Linked DNA regions of Homo sapiens: all the other regions are linked to region 3. Evidence: fine-mapped expression QTL. A gene starts in region 3. Each other region holds a variant in brackets. All regions are shown on one strand. Distances are from middle to middle.

What was found.
Region 1: its variant is fine-mapped to the expression of ZNF606-AS1 in esophagus mucosa (GTEx, PIP above 0.99). The same link has a PIP of 0.9 or more in aorta and tibial nerve.
Region 2: its variant is fine-mapped to the expression of ZNF606-AS1 in pancreas (GTEx, PIP 0.99). The same link has a PIP of 0.9 or more in unexposed skin.

Annotation. Positions count from the first base shown.
Region 1 is chr19:57,934,229-57,942,408 of GRCh38, forward strand. ZNF418 (zinc finger protein 418) reads right to left here and starts at 1,174. Exons shown (of 6, transcript NM_133460.3): 1 at 933-1,174. It overlaps ZNF256 (zinc finger protein 256), which reads right to left. Exons shown (of 3, transcript NM_005773.3): 3 at 6,605-8,180. The coding sequence ends at 6,696. RefSeq lists enhancers at 577-1,459, 1,052-1,141. The variant T/C (reference allele first, on the strand shown) is at 4,919.
Region 2 is chr19:57,003,506-57,011,685 of GRCh38, forward strand. No RefSeq gene overlaps it. Among named protein-coding and RNA genes, the nearest start is that of USP29, 110 kb to the right of the region's middle. The variant T/C (reference allele first, on the strand shown) is at 5,073.
Region 3 is chr19:57,999,567-58,007,746 of GRCh38, forward strand. ZNF606-AS1 (ZNF606 antisense RNA 1) reads left to right here and starts at 3,328. Exons shown (of 4, transcript NR_036508.1): 1 at 3,328-3,480; 2 at 3,645-3,770; 3 at 4,817-5,134; 4 at 6,341-7,640. ZNF606 (zinc finger protein 606) reads right to left here and starts at 3,254. Exons shown (of 7, transcript NM_001348022.3): 1 at 2,830-3,254; 2 at 1,723-1,804; 3 at 1,117-1,173; 4 at 242-330. The coding sequence starts at 1,753. RefSeq lists an enhancer at 3,186-3,605.

The DNA of each region.
Region 1 (8,180 bases), 65 kb before region 3:
GGGTTCCTTTTTTTGAGCCAGAGTTTCGCTCTTGTTGCCCAGGCCGGAGTGCAATGGCTCACCGCAACCTCTGCCTCCCGAGTTCAAGCAATTCTCCTGCCTTAGCCTCTGAGTAGCTGGGATTACAGTCATGCGGCATCACCACGCCTGGCTAATTTTGTATTTTTGTTAGAGACGGGGTTTCTCCATGTTGGTCAGGCTGGTCTCGAACTCCCGACCTCAGGTGATCCGCCCGCCTCGGCCTCCCAAAGTGCTGGGATTACAGGTGGGAGCCACCTTGCCCGACCCCCTCAGTGGGTTCTTTACGTGCTTTTGTAGCCAGGAGTGTCTGAGGGGAAAGCAGACGTTACAAAGGGGATCTGATAAGCTCAGGTCTCCTTGAACCTTTTCTTATCGCTGGAGCCAGGTGACCTCAGACTGGTTGACCTGCGTGTCTCAGTGCAAAATGTCATCTCTACCACCTATGTGATCTATCAACAAAGGAGTCAACCTCCCAGAACCCTAAGGTCCTCATCTCCTCTACTATGTTCTTCCTTTGGCCTTTGGGAAACCTTAAAAGCCTGGACTTGGATCGCATCCCTCCTTTCTTCGAAACTCTCCATGGCTTCTAGCGTCTTCACAGCGAATACACAGCCCCCAGCCTGCTCTTCCAGGAGAAGCTTCGCCTCACACGTTGTTCCCTACAGGCGCCTGTGGACCCCAGGTTCCATCCTCCCGGGTCTGTCCTCCAGGCCATAGCCCGCGCCGGTCCCTGTGCCTGTCGCTCTCCCCACCGCATCCCACAGGTGTCAGAAACAAGGACCTCTCCCGCGAACGCCTCAGTGTCCCGACGCCGGGTCCGGGCTGCAGACCTGTGAACAGTCGCCGCTCTCTCGCTGCTTCAGGATTCGGGTTAGGATGAGGTGACCTGAGGGCAGGGAAGGCACAATTACCTGAGCCGGGAGCCTCAGCGCGGCCGCCGCCATCCCGAGTACGCGGGGAAAGCACTGCCGGGAGCGGCGGGCGCCGTTACGGGGCCTAAGATCTGCCTCTGTGCAGCAAGAAGGACTCTTCACCTTCTGGGTTCAGACACCGCGGTTCGGACCCATAGCTCCAGCGCCTCTCACCTCACAAACCGCAGAAACACACCCAACATTAACCAAAATGGTCGCTACCAGAGAACGCTGAGAATCCCGCCACTACGTTACGTGCGCACACAGAAACGCCTTTATTCTGAGCCCTTACTGGTTCTGTTGCGCTGTCATTCAATGTAGAGCTTTCTGGGTAATGTAGTTCCCCAGGTTCCAAGGTAGTAAAGCTGCCGCTTCCCAAAGGCGCTTCTGCAGGGAAGTCCCAGCCCTACCTCAGGGGGTTCATTAAAGCGCGTACCCTTTTAGGGCAGAGGATGGTCTCGCCCCTCCTTAGAGGCCATATTGAGATTCCTGGGGAATCCCTGTTTGTAACTGACCACCTAAGTGTTTGCAAAAATATTAATTCACATTTCTGTAAATTCAAGCTCCCAGGCGCTAAAAATACTGTGAAGGCCCCCAAAGGCTACAAATCCAAATTCGTGTATCACTTTATACAATCGTTTAGACACAGAATGCTTGCACTGGAAGCAGAGGCTGATAAACATTACTCTGTTATAATTCACATGAATGCACTCTTGTTACCGGATAGAATGTCTTGGCTGTGAGTTGTCCAGTTGTTGGCGCATTGAACAAAGAAGTGAACAAAACACACAAAAAAAGCAACGAAAGAACGGACCAATGAAAGCGCAGATTTATTGAGGGGAAAGTACACTCCACAGAAGTGGAATGTAGGTGTGGGAGCAGGCGACCAAGCGGCTCAAGAACCCCGATTACAATGTTTTTTAGGGTTTTATTAGGTTGGTGCAAAAGTAATTGCGGTTTTTGCCATGAATAAGCTAGAATTTTATAATACCCCAAGAGTTCTTTAAAGGCCTCCAATCCTATGAAGGACTGGTGCACAACCAATCAGAGGCTGAAGTGGAGACTTCTGTCTTGTTACCACAGGAGTGAGGACGTGGCCTGTGTGCTGCCTCATCTTGCCTAGAACTAGCTGCACCTGCTGTTCTTTTGCTTATGCCTTCATTCTTGGTTACCCTAATTCCCTATTCTCCTGCCTCACTCTGAGGCATTAGAGTTGGTTTTTCAGTCTGCCAGGGACAAAAGAGAACTAATCCAGATAGGACCATGCCAAGGAAGATAGAGGAGAGGCTAAAGAAAGAGTACAAAGGTCAATCAGTCGTTCCCATGGAAAAACAACTCTCCTGCTTATATAGTCAATTATTGTGTCCAATTCATTCAGCAAAACATTTATTCATGTAATATCCCTTACTTGGTATTCTAACTTATATTTTCAACTCATTTTAGGAACTTGAAGTCAGTCTCAGGTAAAGAACAATGAAAGAGAAATCTCAGCTTGGTATTGGTAATGGTGGTGATAATCTCCACCTGGAGACACTAGGCGTATGTTAAATTATCGAGCTTGTTATCTTTCCTGGGAAGTGATTATCATTTGTTTCTCTTGTGACAGCGGGGAGTGTTCTGCATGAGGAACTAATATGATACCAGAAAAACAGGTGAAATGCCAGTTACAGAAACTTATTACCAACGACTATCTAATAACTGCGATGACAGAAATAGGTCAATTGAAACATGAGTGGATGGTGAAAAAAATTTACACTTCACAGAAGTTTTTCTTTCTTTTTTTTTTTTTTTTTTTTTGAGACAAAGTCTCGTTCTGTCCCAGACTGGAGTGCAGTGGCGCCATCTTGGCTCACTGCAACCTCCACCTCCCGGGTTCAAGCGATTCTCCTGCCTCAGTCTCCCAAGTAGCTGGGATAACAGATGCCTGCCACCACGCCCAGCTAATTTTTGTATTTTTAGTAGAGACAAGGTTTCACCATGTTGGCCAGACTGGTCTCAAACTCTTGACCTCTGACCTGCCTGCCTCCTTCTCCCACAATGCTGACATTACAGGCATAAGTCACTGCTCCCAGCTGACTTTACAGGTGTTTGTTTGTTTGTTTGTTTGTTTTGAGAAGGAGTTTCACTCTTGTTGTCCAGGCTGGAGTACAATGGCACAGTTTCAGCTCACTGCAACCTCCTCCTCCTGGGTCAAGCAATTCATTCTCCTGCCTCAGCCTCCCAAGTAGCTGGGATTACAGGTGCCTGCCACCACACTCAGCTAATTTTTGTATTTTCAGTAGACACAAGGTTTCACCATTTTGGCCAGGCTGGCCGCAAACTCCTCACCTCAGGTGATCCACCCGAGGTGGCCTCCCAAAGTGCTGGGACTACAGGTGTGAGCCACCTCGCCCGGCCCAGAAGTTTTAACAGTGATGTCTACGAAGAGATGGAATTAAGGTCAGCATGTGATTAAAAATGTCCCCCTTGTTGGTTTTGTCATTGAGATTTTTTTTTCTTTATTAAAAACATTGAACAATACCAAGGTGGAGAAAAATTGTGCCTGTTCACCTACCTACTTGGGAGGCTTAGAGGGAGGATCACTTCTGCAAAGGAGTTTGAGGCCAGCCTGGGCAGCAGAGCAAGACTCTGTCTCCAAATAAATAATTTAATGAATAAGTAAAAACAGAAGGTGAAATCTGCAGTATAGTATTATCCTCATAGAATTGTGTCTCCCTTTCTTCATTATTCTGTGTGTCAATTATGTTACAAGTTTTTCATCTTATAGGAAAAAAGTCATAGATTCTATACACATCTGTACTTTTTCTCACTTAGCAATATGGTTTGAACAATGAAAAGCTTCTTTTTCACTTCACATTTGAAATCTGCTTATCTCCACATTCTATTTTTTTCTCCCCTTTTTGAGACAGCGTCTCACTCTGTTGCCAAGGCTGAAGCGCAGTGGCATGATCAAGGCTCAACTGCAGTCTCAACCTCTCAGGCTCAAGTGATCCTCCCATCTCAGCATTCAGGAGTAATTGGGACTATAGGCATGCACCACCACAACCAGCTAATTTTTGAGAGATGTGGTTTTGCCATGTTGCCCAGGCTGGTATCAAACTCCTGAGTTCAAGCAATCCTCCTGCCTCGGCCTCCCTAAGTGCTGGCATTATAGGATTCGGCCACTACACCTGGCCTATTCATCTTTTTCTGATGTAGAACCCACTCAGTGACAGTGTAATCAAGAATCAAGAAAGAGGCCAGATGCAGTGGCCATGCCTGCAATCCCAGCACTTTGGGAGCCTAAGGTGGGCAGATCACTTGAGGTCAGGAGTTTGAGACCAGCCTAGCCAACATGGCAAAAACCCGTCTCTACTAAAAATACAAAAATTAGGTGGGTGTGGTGGCGCACATCTGTAATCCCAGCTACTCGGGAGGCTGAGGCAGGAGAATTGCTTGAACCCGGGAGGCAGAGGTTGCAGTGAGCTGAAATCGTGCCACTGCACTCCAGCGTGGACAACAGAGCAACTCCGTCTCAAAAAAAAATAGAGCCAGAATACAATACACAAGCAACTGAAGTATTTCAACAGCAAAGAAACCCTCAAACAATCCAATTTAAAAATGTCAAACGATCTGAATAGGCATTTTTCAAAAGACAACATACAAACGGTCAAAAATATATTAAAACACACTCATCACTATCTGGGAAATGCAAATCAAAACCGCAATGAGGTATCACTCTCCCCGTTTAGGATAATTATTATCAAAAAGACAAAAACAGACGCTGGCAAGGATGCAGAGAAAAGGGAACTAATGGCCAGGTGCGGTGGCTCACATCTGTAATCCCAGCACTTTGGGAGGCCGAGCTGGGTGGATCACGAGGTCAGGAGTTCGAGACTGCCTGACCAACGTGGTGAAACCCTGTCTCTACTAAAAATGCAAAAATTAGCCAGGCGTGGTGGTGCGTGCCTATAATCCCAGCTACTCAGGAGACTGAGGCAGGAGAA[T/C]AGCTTGAACCCGGGAGACGGAGGTTGCAGTGAGCCAAGATCATGCCACTGCACTCCAGCCTGGGCGACAGAGAAAGACTCCATCTCAAAAAAAAAAAAAAACCCAACAAAATACAAGAAAAGGGAACTCATGCACTGGTGGTGCAAATGCAAACCAGTACAGCCATTATGGAGAACAGTATTGAGGTCCCTCTAAAAACTACAAATATGCCAGGCGCGATGGCTCACGCCTGTAATCCCAGCACTTTGGGAGGCTGAGGCAGGCGGATCACGAGGTCAGGAGTTCGAGAACACCCTAACCAACATGGTGAAACCCCGTCTCTTCTAAAAATACAAAAATTAGCAGGGGTGGTGGCACGCACCTGTAATCCCAGCTACTCAGGAGGCTGAGGCAGGAGAATTGCTTGAACCTGGGAGGCGGAGGTTGCAGTGAGCCAAGATCACACCACTGCACTCCAGCCTGGATAACAGAGTGAGACTCTGTCTCAAAAAACAAAACAAAACAAAACAAAAAACTACAAACACAACTACCATATCATCCAGCAATCCCCCTACTGGGAATTTATCCAAAGGAAAGAAAATCATCACATTGGAGACACATCTACACCCCGTTTACTGCAGCACTATTCACAATAGCCAAAATATGGAATCAACCTAGATGTCCAACAACAGATAAATGGATAAAGAAAATGTGGTTTATACACACAAAGGAATACTATTCAAAGAACAGAATGAAATCCTATCACCTGAGGCAACATGGATGGAAATGGAGGACATTATTTAAGTGAAATAAGCCAGGAACATAAACATGCACATTCCCACTCATATGTGGAAGCTTTAAAAAAAAAAAAAAAAAGCTGGGTGCGGTGGCTCACGCCTGTAATCCCAGCACTTTGGGAGGCTGAGGCGGGTGGATCACCTGAGGTCGGGAGTTCAAGACTAGCCTGACCAACATGGAGAAACCCTGTCTCTACTAAAAATACAAAATTAGCCGGGGTGGTGGTGCATGCCTGTAATCCCAGCTACTCAGGAGGCTGAGGCAGGAGAATCGCTTGAACCCAGGAGGCAGAGGCTGCGGTGAGCCAAGATCATGCCACTGCACTCCAGCCTGGGCAAAAAGAGTGAAACTCCATCTCAAAAAAAAAAAAAAAAAAAAAAAAAAAAAAAGCCTGGGAGACAAAGCAAGACTGTCCCCCACCCCCACAAAAAAAAGTTGATCTCTTAGAAGTAAAAAGTAGAACAGAGGATACTAGAGGCTGGGAAGGGTAGTGGGTAGGCAGGAATAGACAAAGATTGGTTACAAGCTACAAAATTACAACTAGACAGGAGGAATAAGTTCTAGTGTTCTATACCACTACAGGAGAACTAAAGTTAATAATATATAATTTCAAGTTGTTAGGAGAATGGCAATTGAGACTGACTGTTCCCAATATAAAGGAATGACGAATGTTTGAGGTGATGGATATGCTAATTACTCTGATCACTCTAAGTTATAGGTATCAAAACATCACTATGTACTCCAGGAACATGTACAATTATAATTTGTCCATTTAAACACAAAGAATTTTTTTAAAAAAAGAAACCATTTGGTTTTCTGTGTGGATATGAGACAAAGTAGTATGTACACATATAAACTTATTTGTATAAAACAAAATTCAGAGAACATATACTAAATATAAAACATGGTTATTGAAAATACGTATTTATTTATTTATGTCTGTGAATTTTGCAGGGACACTTCTCAGTCCGTAACAGCCCTATGTGTGTTACCTAACCTTTATCCCTTGTGAACGTTCTGATGTTTTAGGAGGTTGGAGTTGAAGGTAAAAAATTTTCCACAGTCACTACACTCATAAGGCCTTTCCCCACTGTGAATTCGCTGGTGATTAGTGAGGTTAGAGCTCTGGCTAAAGGATTTTCCACATTCACTGCATTCATAAGGCCTTTCTCCGGTATGAACTCTTCGGTGTTTAACGAGGCTAGAGTGGTTACTAAAGGATTTCCAACACTCACTGCACTCATAAGGCCTTTCTCCGGTGTGACTTCTCCTATGTCTAATGAGGCTGGAGCTCTGGCTAAAAAACTTCCCACATTCATTGCACTCATAAGGCCTTTCTCCAGTGTGAACTCTCTGGTGTTGAAGGAGCGTAGAGCTATGAGTAAATGATTTCCCACACTCCCCACATTCATAAGGCCTTGCTCCAGTATGAACTTTCCAGTGTGAGATGAGGTAGGATTTACAGGTAAAGGATTTTCCACATTCACTGCACTCATATGGCCTTTCTCCTGTGTGAACTCTCTCATGTACAATGAGGTCAAATTTCCTGCTAAATAATTTTCCACATTCATGACATTCATGAGATCTTACTCCAGTATGAACTCTCTGGTGTTGGAAGAAACGAGATCTATAAGTAAACAATTTCCCACATTCACTACACTCATAAGGCCCTTCTCCAATGTGAAGTCTCCGGTGTTTAATGAGGTGACAGCTCTGGCTAAAGGATTTCCCACATTCACTGCACATATAAGGCCTTGTACCAGTGTGAACTCTCTGGTGTGTAATAAGGCTAGAACTATGGATAAAAGATTTCCCACATTCACTGCACTCATAAGGCCTCATTCCAGTATGAATTCTCTGGTGTGTAATGAGGCTAGAGCTATGGCTAAAGGATTTCCCACATTCACTGCACTTGTAAGGCCTTTCTCCAGTATGAACTCTCTGATGTATAAGAAGGTCATACTTCCTGTTAAATAATTTTCCACATTCATCACATTGATGAGGTCTTACTCCAGTGTGAATTCTTCGGTGCGTAATAAGGCTAGAGCTTTGCCTATAGGATTTCCCACATTCTCCACATGTATAAGGCTTTTCTGAAGTGTGAACTCTCAAATGATCACTGAGGCTACAGCTTGTGCTAAAAGATTTCCCACATTCACTGCACATGTAAGATCTTTCCCTAATGAGGTCTCCCTGGTGCTGAACACGTACATGTTTGTAGCTGAAAGCTTTCACACATTCTCCCCAGTTGTAATGATTTTTTACACTGTGAAAGGCCACTGCACTCTTGGTTCTGTTTGACTTCTTTCTGGTGTGAGCAGCCTGTTGCTGAAGAAATCTTGATCTCACCAGGAAATCCTTCCCAACCTCCTTGCAAGTGAAGGGCTTCCCAGATACTTCAAATGTGCAGCTGCTCAAAAACATGTCTCTGCCCCCATTGCTTCTGAAGTGTTTCTGTCCAACATGCTGCTTCTGGTGCTGATG
Region 2 (8,180 bases), 1.0 Mb before region 3:
GGATAGTGGCAACACATGCTCCTTATGACATCGTGTCAGAGAGGTGTTTGCACATCAAGCTTACCCAAATCTTCACTCCTGTTTTCAGCAGAGCTGCCCAAACCTCAAGACGGTCCTTCCTTCCCCTCCTCCTCTTGCAGCCCCTGCATTCCATCCCTGACTCTTCCGCGAGCTGCAGCAGGAAGGATTCAGGCCATACACATGAAGGAGCAAGGCTACCCCTGGGGCCAAGGCCACCCCTCGCCCACCCCCGTCTCTCCCACCCCGGGTAGCCGTCACTGCCGCAGAGCAGGGGGAACGTGTCCCAGGTCACTGCACCCTCTGCTGTGTAGGGACTGGGGTCATTTCTGACCGAACATCTTACTCTAGGGCCTGAGATTCAGTGTCGTGGGGGACTGAGTCTGAATCCTTCCCGGGCAGGGCTCACCAGCAGAATTCAGATGGAAACTGTAGAGTGCTGTCAGCAGGGGTGTGCTGGAGCCAGCTTCTACTGGAGGACAGGAACCAACGCGTCAACTCGCAGGAAGTTTGTGAGATGTTTAAGCACATCGTTTAGTAAACAGGACACTCCATGCACTTTCAAAATTAAATAAATGACGTAAGCCGGGCACGGTGGCTCACGCCTGTAATCCCAGCACTTTGGGAGGCTGAGGTGGGCGGATCACCTGAGGTCGGGAGTTCGAGACCAGCCTGACCAAAATGGAGAAACCCCCGTCTCTACTAAAAAATACAAAAATTAGCTGGGCGTGGTGGCGCATGTTTGTAATCCCAGCTACTCGGGAGGCTGAGGTAGGAAGATCGCTTGAACCTGGGAGGCGGAGGTTGCGGTGAGCCGAGATTGCACCATTGCACTCCAGCCTGGGCAACAAGAGCGAAACTCCGTCTCAAAAAAAAAAAAAAAAAAAAAAAAGACGTAAAGAACAAAGGTAGGAAACACCCTAAACATACGCTTTCCTAGTTATTTAAATACATTTTACTAGCGTCTGTGTTTGGGGGTGATTGACATCCATTGTGTCTGCAGTAGATGTGGGGGCTGCTGACCTCCTCCCACCTCCATGCCCAGCGAGCAGGCCGGCTCCTGCAGCTGCCCATGCTGGGGAGGCATTTGCACCATGGAAGCTGGCAAACACCACCGGGCACGCCACCCCGGCCTCCAGAGTTGGCTGTCCAGCATTCACCAGCTCCCCACTGGCTGCAGGAATCCAATTCTTTACTCTTTCGGGTGTAAGTGCTTATTTAGGAAGCCCTCCGGTAGGCTGGTCTGTGCTCCACGCATCGGGGTACAACGGTGAGCAGAACTGCAAAGAGCCTGTCTTTCTGCATCTTCCATTTTGTGAGAATGAAAAGAAAATAAACATAAAACTCAACCCAGGAAGAAGATAATTTCAGAAGATTCTAAGTGCAAGAAAGAAACAGAGTGAGGTGATACTAACGGGCAAATGTTACTTTCTTTTTTTTATTATTATACTTTAAGTTCTAGGGTACATGTGCACAACGTGCAGGTTTGTTACATATATATACATGTGCCATGTTGGTGTGCTGCACCCATTAACTCGTCATTTACATTAGGTATATCTCCTAATGCTATCCCTCCCCCCCTCCCCCCACAACAGGCCCCAGGGTGTGATGTTCCCCTTCCTGTGTCCAAGTGTTCTCATTGTTCAATTCCCACCTATGAGTGAGAACATGCGTTGTTTGGTTTTTTGTCCTTGCAATAGTTTGCTGAGAATGATGGTTTCCAGCTTCATCCACGTCCCTACAAAGGACATAAATTCATCATTTTTTATAGCTGCATAGTATTCCATGGTGTATATGTGCCACATTTTCTTAATCCAGTCTATCATTGTTGGACATTTGGGTTGGTTCCAAGTCTTTGCTATTGTGAATAGTGCCACAATAAACATACATTTGCATGTGTCTTTATAGCAGCATGATTTATAATCCTTTGGGTATATACCCAGTAATGGGATGGCTGGGTCAAATGGTATTTCTAGTTCTGGATCCCTGAGGAATTGCCACACTGACTTCCACAATGGTTGAACTAGTTTACAGTCCCACCAACAGTGTAAAAGTGTTCCTATTTCTCCACATCCTCTCCAGCACCTGTTGTTTCCTGACTTTTTAATGATCGCCATTCTAACTGGTGTGAGATGGTGTCTCATTGTGGTTTTGATTTGCATTTCTCTGATGGCCAGTGATGATGAGCATTTTTTCATGTGTCTTTTGGCTGCATAAATGTCTTCTTTTGAGAAGTGTCTGTTCATATCCTTCACCCACTTTTTGATGGGGTGGTTTTTTTTTCTTGTAAATTTGTTTGAGTTCTTTGTAGATTCTGGATATTAGCCCTTTGTCAATAGGAAGAATCAATAACGTGAAAATGGCCATACTGCGCAAATATTACTTTCAAAAGGAGGTCAGGAAGACTTCCTGGAGGAGGCGAATGCACGGTAGCACTCACTCCCAAAGGGTCGGAAGTACCCAGTAATGGGAAGATCTGGGGAAGAAGTTGTGGGCAGGTGCAAAGTCAGGAAGAAGCCTGAGGTGCCCAGACAACACAGCGGCACATAATGAGTGGTGGGGAGAGAGATAGGAGGGGAGGCTGCTAGGTGCTCAGCAGAGGCTGCGTTACAGATGGACCCTGAAGATGGGGGTGAGGAGACTTGATGGCTTGATACTGTTTGATAGCACTGACAGCTATTGGAGGGTGATGACTCAGGAACTTCCCTCACCAATAAGCGTTTCTTAAAAAAAATTACTCTGACTCTACAAATATATATGTATATATAATTTAACCACATTTTACTAGCATCTATGTTTGGGGGTTACTGACATCTCTCTATCTATCTATTTATCTATATATTTGGAGGATCAGAGTAATTTTTAAAAGAAGTGTCTATATATAATGTATGTAGAAATAATATATAAATAAATACCTATATAAAGTAATTATATATTTTTATATTTTTATTTATATATTTCACTTAAAATATACATTTTTAAATATATATGTTTTGTTTTGTTTGAGAGAGTCTTGCTCTGTCACCTTGGCTGGAGTGCAGTGGCACCATCTCGGCTCACTGCAACCTCCGCCTCTCAGGTTCAAGAGATTTTCCTGCCTCAGCCTACCAAGTAGCTGGGATTACAGGCACCTGCCACCATGCCCAGCTATTTTTTTTTTTTTTTTTTTTTTGTATTTTAGTAGAGGCAGGGTTTCACCATGTTGGCCAGGCTGTTCTCGAACTCCTGACCTCAGGTGATCCACCCACCTCAGCTTCCCAAAGTGCTGGGATTACAGGTGTAAGCCGCTGCACCCAGCTGAACCCACCTTTGGAACTTAGTGAGTGTCTCGCCCTAAGTGCCTGTCAGCTGGGGCACTTCCTCTGTGCCCTACAAATGTTCCTCAAACTGAAATTCTTTAGAACAATGCAGGAAGAATCCCATGCAATGGCATAAAGCACTGTAAACTATTTCACTTTTATTACTCCGGAAATTTATATTGCTTTTTATTTTCCGTAACCTGAAGATATATGTGCTAGTTCCTTGGGGCTGGGACATTAAGATAAGTTGTGTGGTCCTTCCTTCCAACACAGCTACCACCCTGGGCTCCTCCTCTGGGCACACTGTGGGCGCCTGCTGCTCGCAAACTGTGATAAGGAAGGAGCTGTTTTTTCTAAGATCACTGGGATCCATTAAGGGCTCCGCAGGAGAAAGACAGAACTTCTCTTTAGGATGATGAAAGATGAGGGTGTCACAGGTGGTGACTCAAACAACAATTGAGAGGCAAAGGGGTCTGAACCCATCTGCAAATAAATATCATTTGAATGAATGAACGAGTGTATCCAGGGGTGAAGCGGGAACAGAAGTCATGGTGAACCACTGACAGGAGGACCGTGGTGGGAACCCTTCCTGCGCTATGAAGGCAGAGTTGAGGTGCTGTAGCCTAGACTGTAGGGAATCCCTTTTGCCACATCAGGTGACACCCACTGGTTCTAGATACTAAGATGTGGATATCACTGGGGGACCATCATTCAGCCCACCACAGATGGATGAGTAGAGAGGTTAATGGATGGAAGGATGGTAGGTGAAAGGATGGATAGTAGAGTAGATGGATGAATAGTAAGGTGGATGATTGGATGGAAGAGTGAATGGATAGATGGGTATACAGATTGATGGGTGGTGGGTGGATGATTCCTGTGATCCCTGCCTCGCTTCTCAGCTAAGCTACTCTGATGTCCATCACTCTGACCTGTCCCCCGACAGACACTCTCACTTGGTACAGACCTCAGAAGCAGGCTCTGGTGGTCACCATGGAAATGCGATTGGATGAGGAAGGTAAGTTGCTGAGGAGTGGGCAGAGAGACTCTCAGATGCTGGAAATTTCCAGACTCTGGAGTGAAATTAAGGTGTGTAAAAGGGACTATAGGGGAGGGGCAAGAGTGAGACCACGGAGGAGGATGTTGCAATCGTCCAGGAATCATGGTGGTGGAGGTCACTAAGGTTGTGCAGCAGACACTGAAAGAAAAAGAAAATGGCTCCTGACAAAGGAGGGGGAAATAGCAGGAACAGATAGGAAAGGCATTTCTGACTGGAGACCTTATACACACTACAAAACCACAAACATACCTTTAAATACTGGGCACAGTGTCTCACACCTCCAATCCCTGCACTTTAGGAGGCCAGGGAAGGAGGATCGCTTGAAGCAGGAGTTTGATACCAGCCTAGACTACAAAGTGAGATCCCATTTCTACAAAAATAAAAATTAGCTGGGCTCAGCCGAGTGGGGTGGCACATGCCTGTAGTCCCAGCTACTCAGGAGGCTGAGGCGGGAGGCTCGCTTGAGCCTAGGAGTTGGGGGCTGCAATGAGCTATGATTTTGCCACTGCACTCCAGCCTGGGCAACAGAGTGAGGCCCTGTCTCAAAAATACACACACACACGCACACACACACACACACACACTTAAAAAACAAAAGGTTGAAAATGAAACACATAGTGAAATAAAAGTTCTGATAGTATCTTCCCAATTGCTCCACCTCACTTTAGAGTCAGGTGAGGGAGGATGGTGGCGGAGGC[T/C]GCAACACAGTGGCTGAGACATCGCTCTCAGCGTGTCACCGTGAGGTCTCCCAGGGAGGGTGTGGAGAAAACAGTGCCCAGGACAGAGCCTGAGAAACCTCACCGGGAAGATGGAGCATAACAAGGAAAGCATTACTCAACCATTCTGTGTCACTGAAGTGTGTACACAATTAGCCCATCTGTTGCTCACCCTCCTCATTCACCAACCCCTATTCCAAGAAATTTAAATGCCCAAAATAGGACTTCCCACCAGTGGGAGGTGTTGGCAGCCAACACAGAGGAGCAGCTCCAGAATCCAGGGAGTTTGTTTGAAATAAAACTGACCTATAACAAAGAGAGACAAGTATCTCTTCAATCCCTACCATCCCTCCACCTACCCACCCATCCATCCACCCATCCATGTATCCACACTTCCATCTAATGCACACAACTATCCAACTGTCCATCCATTCAGCCACCCATGCAACAACCCACCTAATGCATTAATTCTGTCATTCTTCCAATTATCACCACCCACCCATCACTTCATACACCCATCCACCCACCACCCATCCATCCACATACCCCCATCCATCCATGCTTCCATCCAATCATGCACCCTACACCTGTCCCCCCACCCATCACTTCATACACCCATCCACCCACCACCCATCCATCCACATATCCCCATCCATCCACCCACCACCCATCCATCCACATACCCCCATCCATTCACCCTTCCATCCAATCATCCACCCTACACCTATCCATCCACCCACCACCCATCCATCCACATACCCCCATCCATTCACCCTTCCATCCAATCATCCACCCTACACCTATCCATCCACCCATCATTCCATACATCCATCTACCTACCCATCAATCTGTATACACATCTATCCATTCACCCTTCCATCCAATCATCCACCCTATACCTATCCACCCACCCATCATTCCATACAGCCATCCACCCACCACCCATCAATCTGTATACACATCTATCCATTCACTCTTCCATACAATCATCCACCTTACTATTAATCCATCTACTCTACTATCCATACTTCCACCCACCATCCTTCCATCCATTAACCTATCTACTCATCCATCTGTGGTGAGCTGAATGATGACCCCCCACGTCTTAGTTTCCAGAATCTGTGAGTGTCACCTGATGTGGCAAAAGGGATTCCCCGCAGTCTAGGTTACAGCAACTCAACTCTGCCTTTATAGCACAAAAGTGGTCCTAGACAAAACACAAATGATGGATGTGTCTATGTTCCAGCACAACTGTATTGTACAAAAGCAGGCAGGCCATAGTTTGGCAATCAGCCATCTTGTTCTGAATGATCAGGCCCCTACTTCACTTTCCGACAAATCTCTATCCACTTTTTCCCTTGCTCTCTCCACCGTAGCCACACTGGCTTCCTCGATGGTCCTCAGGCTGGGCAGTCATCAGCCTCATGGCTTTTCAAGACATACATTCTTCTGTCTGGACTGTTTTTCTTCTTGATATTCCCATAATTGTTCCCTCCCTCCATTGAGATTCAAATATCACCACCTCCAAGAAGGCATCCTTGACTCCCAATCTAAAACACCCCACCCCTGCTCTTTGAATCTGACTTATTGTTCCTGATAACACTCGCCACCACCTGAAATCTTACCTATGTTCCCATGTATCACCCCTGCTAGAATACTCATGTCCCAGCATGTGAATACATCTGTTGCGTTCTCTGCTGCACCCACCACGCTTGGCCAGGGTATACCACTAAGTATGCGCCCAGTAAATACCAGCTGAAAGACAGGATGGATGGATGCGTAAATGAGGGCATGAACAGCTGTCTGTCCTAAGAGTCCCCGGCTCCTTTTTTCACATTATTTCACTCTCCGTGTCTAAAGCAGTGTCTGGAGGGATGGGGGGGCTCGATGAATATGTCTGACTGAATAAGGACGTGAAATGCTGCTGCTTAGAAGATATTTGGGATTTCTGTCCACATCCACAGTGGCCCCTGAAGCCATTTTTCTACGTTTTGCGGAGACGCTGCTGCTGCTGACGCATTTCGATGTGTGCAAAATACGCACATGAACAGCCGATACGGACACTTTTGATGTCCGTCCCTCTGCCCTGTTCCCTGCTCACTCGGTGCTCCCAACCTTCTAGCGAATGGTGCAGGAGCTCAGGTTGTTGCCATGGAAACCCCAGCTGGAATGGGGGAGGCAAGTGCGTGGGGAAGGTGTCGAGAGATCCGCAGAGGATGGAATTTTCCAGACTCTGCAGTAAGATGTGAGCTCCACATTGAAGGCCTGGACCAATCGTCTGGCCTCACCCACATCTCTACTGACCTCAGGACTCTCTGTGTCCGTAGCCCCTTTGGGTCTCCTCATACTCTTTGGCAGTCTGGAGTTCCGGGTCTATTTCTCCTGTGAGTCCTTTAGAAAGGCTGTCTGCTCCTTGCATCTCTCTCTTGCTCTCTCGCTCTCTCTCTTCCCTCTCTCTTTCCTCTCTCCTCTTCTTCTTCTTCTTCTTCCTCCTCCTCCTCCTCCTCCTCCTCCTCCTCCTCCTCCTCCTCCTCCTCCTCCTCTTCTTCTTCTTCTTCTTCTTCTTCTTCTTCTTCTTCTTCTTCTTCTTCTTCTTCTTCTTCTTCTTCTTCTTCTTCTTCTTCTTCTTCTCGATCTCAGCTCACTGCAACCTTCACCTCCCAGGTTCAAGCAATTCTCCTGCCTCGGCCTCCCGAGTAGCTGGGATTACAGGCGCCCACCACCATGCCTAGCTAACTTCTTTGTATTTTTAGTAGAGATGGGGTTTCACCATATTGGCCAGGCTGCTCTCGAACTCCTGACCTCAGGTAATCCACCCAAAGTGCACCCTCGCCCTCCCAAAGTGCTGGGATTACAGGTGTGAGCCACTGCGCCTGGCCCTCCTTTCTTCTTTCTCTCTCTCTTTTCCTCCTCTCTCTCCTCTCTCTCTCTTTCTGTTCTCTTGCCTCTCTCTCTCTCTTTCCTCTCCCCTCTTCTTTCTCTCTCTCTTCCCTCCTCTCTCCTCTCTCTCTTTCTCTTCTCTTCTCTCTCTCTCTCTCTTATTCCCCTCTCTGCTCTCACTCTCTCTCTCACACACTCCCTCGGGCAAAA
Region 3 (8,180 bases):
ATGCCCCACAACAAGCCAGGGAGAGTTGGAGCTCAGTACTGTGGACAGACTGGTTGACACTAAGGCTCCGAATCACTAAAAACGGCCTAATTCTCCCTACCTGCTCTCAGGAAGGATTAACTTCCAGTTGCTTCCTTCCCTACCCAAACTCCAACTGTTGTAAACTGGAGAGCCGCATCAACTGGGATGACCAGGGATAACCTGGACATCATCCTCTGGGAACAGGACAGCCCCATCTCACCTGAACCTGGGCTGCTGGGAGCCCAGTGGCCCTCCTCCCCTCCTCCAGGCTTCCCTCCACGTGCCAGGCAGGATACTGAGGACACAGAGCTAGGAAACGAGAAAAAAGTCATGGAGGCAGCTCTCGCTGCCAGGAGCTCACCTTTTCTTCTGGGGGGCTGAGAACCAGCCCCTGCCCCTCCCCCTTGAATGAGGAAAGAGACCCACTTCCTCATTCTATAGATGAAGGAATTAGGGCTCAGAGAAGGTTAGGAAAGTACCTAAACACATGAATCTCTCATTGGCCCCCCCTGTGCTATTGGGTACCATCTCTGAGAAGCAGTGTCTGGTCACAACCTTCCTGGGCCTGAACCCTAAACGGCCACACATGAATTCTCATGCATCTTGAGATGTCACCATCACCTTACTGCTCACTGGTTTTCTTTTTTTTTTTGAGACTGAGTCTCGCTCTGTCGCCCAGGCTGGAGTGCAGTGGCACGATCTTGGCTCACTGCACGCTCCGCCTCCTGGCTTCACGCCATTCTCCTGCCTCAGCCTCCCGAGCAGCTGGGACTACAGGCGCCCACCACCACGCCCAGCTAATTTTTTGTATTTTGTTTTAGTAGAGACGGGGTTTCACCGTGTTAGCCAGGATGGTCTCGATCTCCTGACCTCGTGATCCACTCGCCTCGGCCTCCCAAAGTGCTGTAGGCGTGAGTCACCACGCCTGGCCACTAGTTTTCTGATTCCTCCTTGTTCCAGCTCTGCACAGAGACAGATCTGGACCACCTGCCCTAAAGCCCCACCTGGTCCCCATTCTATTCCCCAGCTGTGGCAGAGCACTACAGCCAGAGGCCACAATATGGCAGCCCACAGCTGACCAGGCTCTTGACTCACCCCAGGAGGCCCATGGGTCAACAGCTGTCATCCCCCAAGATTGGTCCGTAAGGGCACCTGCACAGAAGGATCAGGTTAGGACTGTGACACCAAACCTAGTGATTCAAGGCGACAAAATACAAGAGGAGGCTGACTCGCTAATGGGCACTACAAAATTCCATAAACAGAGCCCAAGGGTGTGTAAAAAAAATGCAACATAAGCTGGATTCACACAGGCAATGCACAGGTGAGTCACTATTAATTAACACCGTTTTAAAATTACCAACCAATGCTATATAAGTAAAAACAATAAAGGTAAAAATATATATGAGAGCAGTAGAGACAATATTTTATTATATGTATCACTGTTGTTTAGGAAACCCCACAAACCACCAGAAAAATCCCTTAAAACTAATGACACCTCTCAGGAGATGACTATAAAACATAAAAGTTAGTGTCTTTTATGCCAACAATTTTCCTCCTTTACCACCAATCAGTTCTAATTTTGTACCAAGATAGACAGACCCCCTTCCATCCTCAAAAGTCCTCAGCCCATCACCAGCTCTGACCCATGACTGCAGCAGCTAATGATAGGGGAGGCCCAGGAGAAACACAACTTGGACTCACCCCAGGAGGCCCACGGGTTGATGGCTGCCATCCCGAGGACTGATTGACCAGGCACCTGCCCAGGAACACAGCAAATCCCAACCTAGTGACAAAAGTGAAAAAAGACAAAACTAGTCCTTTCTCACAGAAGACCAAGTGGGAACAAAGAAGGGAATCCATCCACCGAAGCAACAAAAAAACTTGTAAGGAGCATCGTAAGAAAAGAGAATTTACATGTCAAAAAAGTAACACAATTCCTGGAGAGAAATGAAAGGTAATTTGCATAAGCTGGAAAAAAGAGCATGATCCTGAATGAGAGGGTACAAATTTGTCAGCTATTCCCAAGAGACAGCCAGTCACAACACAGATGGAACTTTTGGATTAATCTGACAATTATTGTAAAATCAACTTGCAATCCTCATATATTAGTGGTTGCCTAGAGCTGGGGGAAAAATGAAATGGGGAGTGACTGCTTAAGGGGAACAAGGGTTTCTTTGTGGGGTGATGAAATGTTCTAAAATTAGATAATGGGGATGATTGCACAACTTTATTAATATACAATAAAACCGGTGAATTGCACACTTTTAAGTGCTTAAAGTGAACATTATGTTATGCAAATTTAATCCCACCTCCAAAAAAAATTCACCTCCAAGATTTACTAAGCCTAAGCTTGTGTGTGTGTGGAGGACTTAGAGATGGGCCTGGCGCCCAGACCCCTAACTCCTCAGGTTCCAGATCTTTGTACAAGTCAGCAACCTCTCGAATGGATTCCTGGGTATGTGTATAAAGCACTAGAACACACAGTGGGCCTCAGGAGCACCGGAATCAGCGCGAAAACGCAGAATGCAAACCGTACTTTGCACCATTATTTGCAACTTGACAGTGACCGCCGCCGTCACTGCATGTTTAAGGGAACCCGGAGCTGTTTCCAACCCAGGTCTGACGTCCTTCACAGTGCTTTGTGTGAACTGGCAGGGGGAGAAACGACGGCTGGGGAACGAACGGGGTTATTCGTCCCATCAATGGCCTCAGAAGCATCCTTATCACCTGCTTCCAGAGCTCCCGACCCAAATTTCCTCCTCAAGACCGACGCGGCCGCGACGCTGCAAAAGCTCGTCCCGGCCTCACCTGGCTCGCGGCCGGCGGTCCCCCTTGAAGGCGGCGCAGCAGGATCGGGGTCTGCCCGCCTGGGGCGTTTGGCTTTTGTCCCGCGCCGAGGTCCGGCCCAGGAGTGCGCTTGGGAGCTCCCGGCGCGGCCTCGGGGACAAAGGCCCGCGGAGCCGACGTGCAGCAGAGTTCACCCAGGCCCGTCCGACCAGAAAACGAAGAACGCCCGGAGGCGGGAGGCCGGAGGCAGGCTGCTGGCTGGAGAACCGACGGCAACGACGGCGCAAAGCCGGCGCGGAAAGGGCAGGCGCAGGACCCACCCTGACGCCGCCTCTCCCAGCCGGCTCTCCTGACCCCCCAAGCCCCGCAGCTACGGCGGCCCCACAGCCTGAGCAAAGGCCTCACCTCAGCCGCGGACAATGGCGGCTGCTTCCCCGGCGTCGACCGGAGCGCGCCGCGGGGTCTGCTGGGAGCTGTAGTTCCAGGCGGGCACTTCCGGCGTCGGGCAGCGGCGCCGCCATGACAGGTTCCTGGGCCGCGCCGCCTCGCCCTGCCTGGGCGGGGTTGGGACCTTTCTGGCACCTGCGTCGAAGCCGGCGGCAGGATGGACTTTGTTGTCCCGGTCCCAGACCACCCTCCTCCACCGTCGCCTCCCACTGCAAAAAGGCCTGGGTAAGTCGCGGCCCCGCGGGCCTCGGTTTGCCCATCCGCAAAATGGCGCCTCGTGGTACCGGGTTTCCCGGGAGGAGCTCGGCGAGTTCTCAGCGCTCTCGAGGGATCCTTCCATTTGGCGTTCGCAAGATTGTGAGAAAGTGACTGCTGTTATTCTCTTTAAGATAAGGAACCTAATTCGAGCTACCCTTCTCTGTGAAGCTCGACGGCTGAGAACGTCAGGGCTCGTTCCCAAGTCTCTTTCCAGAGGCCAGGCTTTATGGGAGCATGGGTTACCAGCGACGCACCCTGTGAGTTTTCCTCTATCGATATGCATGGAGCGGTTCGGGAGCGGTGGCTCATTCCTGTAGTCCCAGCACTTCGGGAAGCTGTGGCGGGAGGATCAGTTGAGTTCAGGAGTTCGACACCACCCTGGGCAACATAGCGAGACCACATCTCTACAAAAAAAATACAAAAATTAGCCCGGTGTGATGGCGCGCGCCTGTAGTCCCCGCTACTTAGGAGGTTGCGGTGGAAGGATTGCTTGAGCCTGGGAGGTCAAGGTTGCAGTGAGCTATGATCGCACCACTGCACTTCAGCCTGGGCAACAGAGCAAGACCCGGCATTAAAACAAACAAAAACGGGCCGGGCGCGGTGGCTCACAGCTGTAATCCCAGCACTTTGGGAGGCCAAGGCAGGTGGATCGCCTGAGGTCAGGAGTTCCGAGACCAGTCTGGGCAACATGATAAAACCTCGTCTCTACTAAAAATACCAAAAATTAGCCGGGCTTGGTGGAGGGCACCTGTACCCAGCTACTTGGGAGGCTGAGGCAGGAGAATCGCTTGAACCCGGGAAGCGGAGGCTACAGTAAGCCGAGATCAAGCCATTGCACTCCAGCCTGGGCAGCAGGGCAAGACTCTGTCTCAAAAAAAGGGACTGAGGGACTGTAGGTGGTGATACCAAAGAAAGCATGGCCATTTAGGAAGCTAGACTTGAGTGAGCAGTGGGCAAGAGAGATTTTGAAGATATTTCCACTAGTAATGGAGGATCATTTTAAAAAGCTGGCCTGTGGGTTGGGCTTTTGTTGTTGGGTGGTGTTGGCACTCACTGTGGGTGGGCAAAGGGGAGTAGCCCTTTCAGAGGGAGAGGAAAAGTTCAAGTAGGACAGGCTGAATTCAAGGGAGAGGAAAATTTCAAGTAGGACAGGCTGAATTCGAGGGAGAGGACCATGAGAGAGGTAAGGTGGAAGGGGCAAGGTGTTGGGACAGGCCCCAGCTGGCAGGAAGGTGAACCCAGTCAGAGTGGGCACTGAGAGGAAAGCAATCTATGGATGGTACAGCCACAATTTCCATCTCAGGATCAAGCAGAGAAAGAGAGGCTGGAGAAGGAAGAGTGACAGAAGTAAGAAGAGAGTGTCTCTCCACTTCCACTCCAGCCCCCTACAGCTCATCCTCCAGCAGGCAGCCAAGGGCACTTTTAGGATCTCACATCAGGTCCTTGCCTCACATTCTGCACTGGCTTCCCAAGTAATTAAAGTAAAATCCAAATTCCAGCTCACAGCTTAGAAAACTCAGCAGGACTGGCCTCTGTCCTATCCCACACCCCACCTCAGTCCCTCAAGCTCATCTCCTGTCATTCCTGCCCATTTCTGGACCCCAGCCACTCCTCAAACAGGGTAAGTCCATTCCTGCTTCAGGGCCTTTGTACGTATTGTTTCCTCTTCCTGGAATCTTCTTCCTTGTACAGCCCCAGGGTTTTCTTTTTTTCATCCAGATCACAGCACAGATGTCACATCCTGGTAACAGCCAGCTGTGACTCATCTCCCTAATTCTCAATTGTATTACTCTCTTTTTATTTTCTTCGTATCGTAACTGATAGTCTCATACAGTACAGAAGCCAAGTTTTAAGATATGCAATCACCAAATACCTGCTACACAAACCTCAATGTTCATATAAAATAAGACTAGAATTCATATTCTAAAGAGAGATGAGGTAGCTCTGTTCACTTTTGAGAGGGAACTCAAATGAGAGAGATACCTTTGACCTAAAGGTGTCAGGAAACCAGATGAAGAAAAACACCCCTGCTATGATTTGAATGTTTTTATCCTCTCCAAAATTCATGTTGAAACTTACTCCCCAGTGCAGTAGTGTTGGGAGGCAGGGTCTAATGGGATTTATGGAGGTCATAAGGCTCTGCTGTCATGAATGGATTAATGTTGTAAACCAAAAAATAAAATTCTAAGCCCCCCACCCCCCAACCATATGAATAGACCCCTCCTCTCAGCCAAGGGCATTCCAAAGTTAATTTGAAAAATGAGTTCGGGCCATGATGGGAAGCAGAAGCTGGACTTGCCTCATTATACCCTCCTCCCTTCTAGAATTAGTGATAGAACAGACTCTTTAAGTCTGATAAGAAACATTTACAGTCTGTTATCTCCGGAGGTTTCATCTGCTTGGTAAAACCTTGAGTTCCACAACCCCAGACATTCCTTTCTATTGACAATAACTCTTTAAATCAATTGGCAATCAGAAATCTTTAAATCTGCCTATAACCTGGAAACTTTCTGTACCAGTATACATCTTATATGTATTGATTGATGTCTCATGTCTCCCTAAGATGTATAAAAGCAAGCTGAACCCTAACCACCCTGGGCATGTCCTCAGGATCTCCTGAGAGCTGCGTCAGGGGCCACTGGTCACCATATTTGGCTCAGAGTAAATCTCTTCAAATATTTTACAGAGTTTGACTCTTCGTCAACAATGCCATTGTAAAAGGTTCATGGAGAGATTCTGCATGTGCTTGCATTCTCTTTCTCTCTCTCTCTTTCTTTCTCTCCCCCCACCCCCACCCTCCACCACCCTGCCCTTTACCTTCTGTCAGGTGAGGATGCAGTGTCCAAGGCACCATCTTGAACTCATCATCGCCAAATATGTGAGCACCTTGATGTTGGACTTCCCAACCTCCAGACCGTAAGGCAGTACATTTCTTTGTAAATTACGCAGTCTCAGCTATTCTGTTACAGCAGCACAAATGGACTAAGACAACCCCCGAGATAGGAAGGGGTAAGGTAAATGCAATGAGAGTTGGGGTTTTCGATCTTAGTCCAGTAAAGGAGCTGGAACTGTTCTGTATAAACAAAGGGCAAGGTAATTGCTACATAGATTCTTTTCTTATTATTGCTGATTCTTATCCTAAAATAAAGGACATTGCCACTACACATCCTCTAGAATGACCAAAAATAAAAATACAGCATCAAATGGGACGACATGGTGCCAACTGGAATTCTCATACCCTGCTGATGGGAGTATAATGTGGTACAGTCACTTTGGAAAAAAGTTTGACAATTTCTTATAAAATTATACATAAACCTGTACTATGACCTAGAGATTCTACTCCTGTTTGTTCAAAAGAAAGGCAAACATCTGTCCACTAAAAGATATGTACAAGAATGCTCACAGTGGCATTATTTATGACGGTCCAAACCAGGAGATAATCCAAATGTCTGTAACCAAGAGAATGGATAAAGAAATTTTGATACGTCAATTTAATGGATTACTACTTAGCAATAAAAATAATTAGCCATGCTGGGCGCGGTGGCTTATGCCTGTAATCCCAGCACTTTGGGAGGCTGAGGCAGGTGGATCACCTGAGGTTGGGAGTTCAAGACCAGCCTGACCAACATGGAGAACCCCCGTCTCTACTAAAATACAAAATTAGCCGGGGTGGTGGCGCATGCCTGTAATCCCAGCTACTCGGGAGGCTGAGGCAGGAGAATCACTTGAACCCGGGAGGTGGAGGTTGCATTGAGCCGAGATTGCGCCATTGCACTCCAGCATGGGCAAAAAGAGCAAAACTCCGTCTCAAAAAAATAAATAAATAATAATTAGCCACATATCCACACAACAATATTGCATTATCACAGGTATAGTGATAAATACTGTATGATTCCATTTATATGAAGTTCAAGAACAGGCAAGTAATCCATGATGAAAGAAGTACTTACCTCTGGGGGTGGCAGCATTGACTAAAGAGGTACAAGGGAGTCTTCTGGGGCCTGGAAATGTTCTATATCTTGATCTGGGTGGTGGTTACACAGGTATACGCGTGTTAAGAAATCATCAGGCTGTATACTTAGTGTACTGTAATGGCATTACACTGTCTTTCAATTAAAATGTGAAAGAAAAAACGGGGGTGTCTTTTGCTTCCACATTTGTAGCCCCAGCTTCTGTATCTCCTGCGTGATAATGGTTGGATGAATTAAAAGGTAGGAGGAATAGAAGAGGAGAAAAGCAATAGGAAGAGGAAGGCTGGAAGAAAAGCCCAGCTCCACTGTCTCACTTGGGTGTCACTGGGTACTGGGGAATTTGGAAGCACTAGGGAACAGAGAGGAAGGTGCTCCCTTAGGCTTCCACTTCTCAGCCCAGTAGTGAGAGGCTATGAAGCTGTTGCCCCCTGGTGGGGGACAAGTGAGACCAGTGAGAGAGGGTTTTTGCCTTAGAATTGCCCCTTCCCTGGAGACAGCAGCAAGATGAAGGCCTCTCAAGAAGTGCTTCATCCTCTGGAAACCAGCGGAGGAAATGACTTTCCCAAGAGAAGGATCATACATCACTCAATCATCAGCAAACATTTATGAAGCACCTGCTCTGTGCCAGACCCTAAAGTGAAAAAAAACAAACACTGCACTTACGGAAGCACGAGATAAACAATAAACATAAGTAAA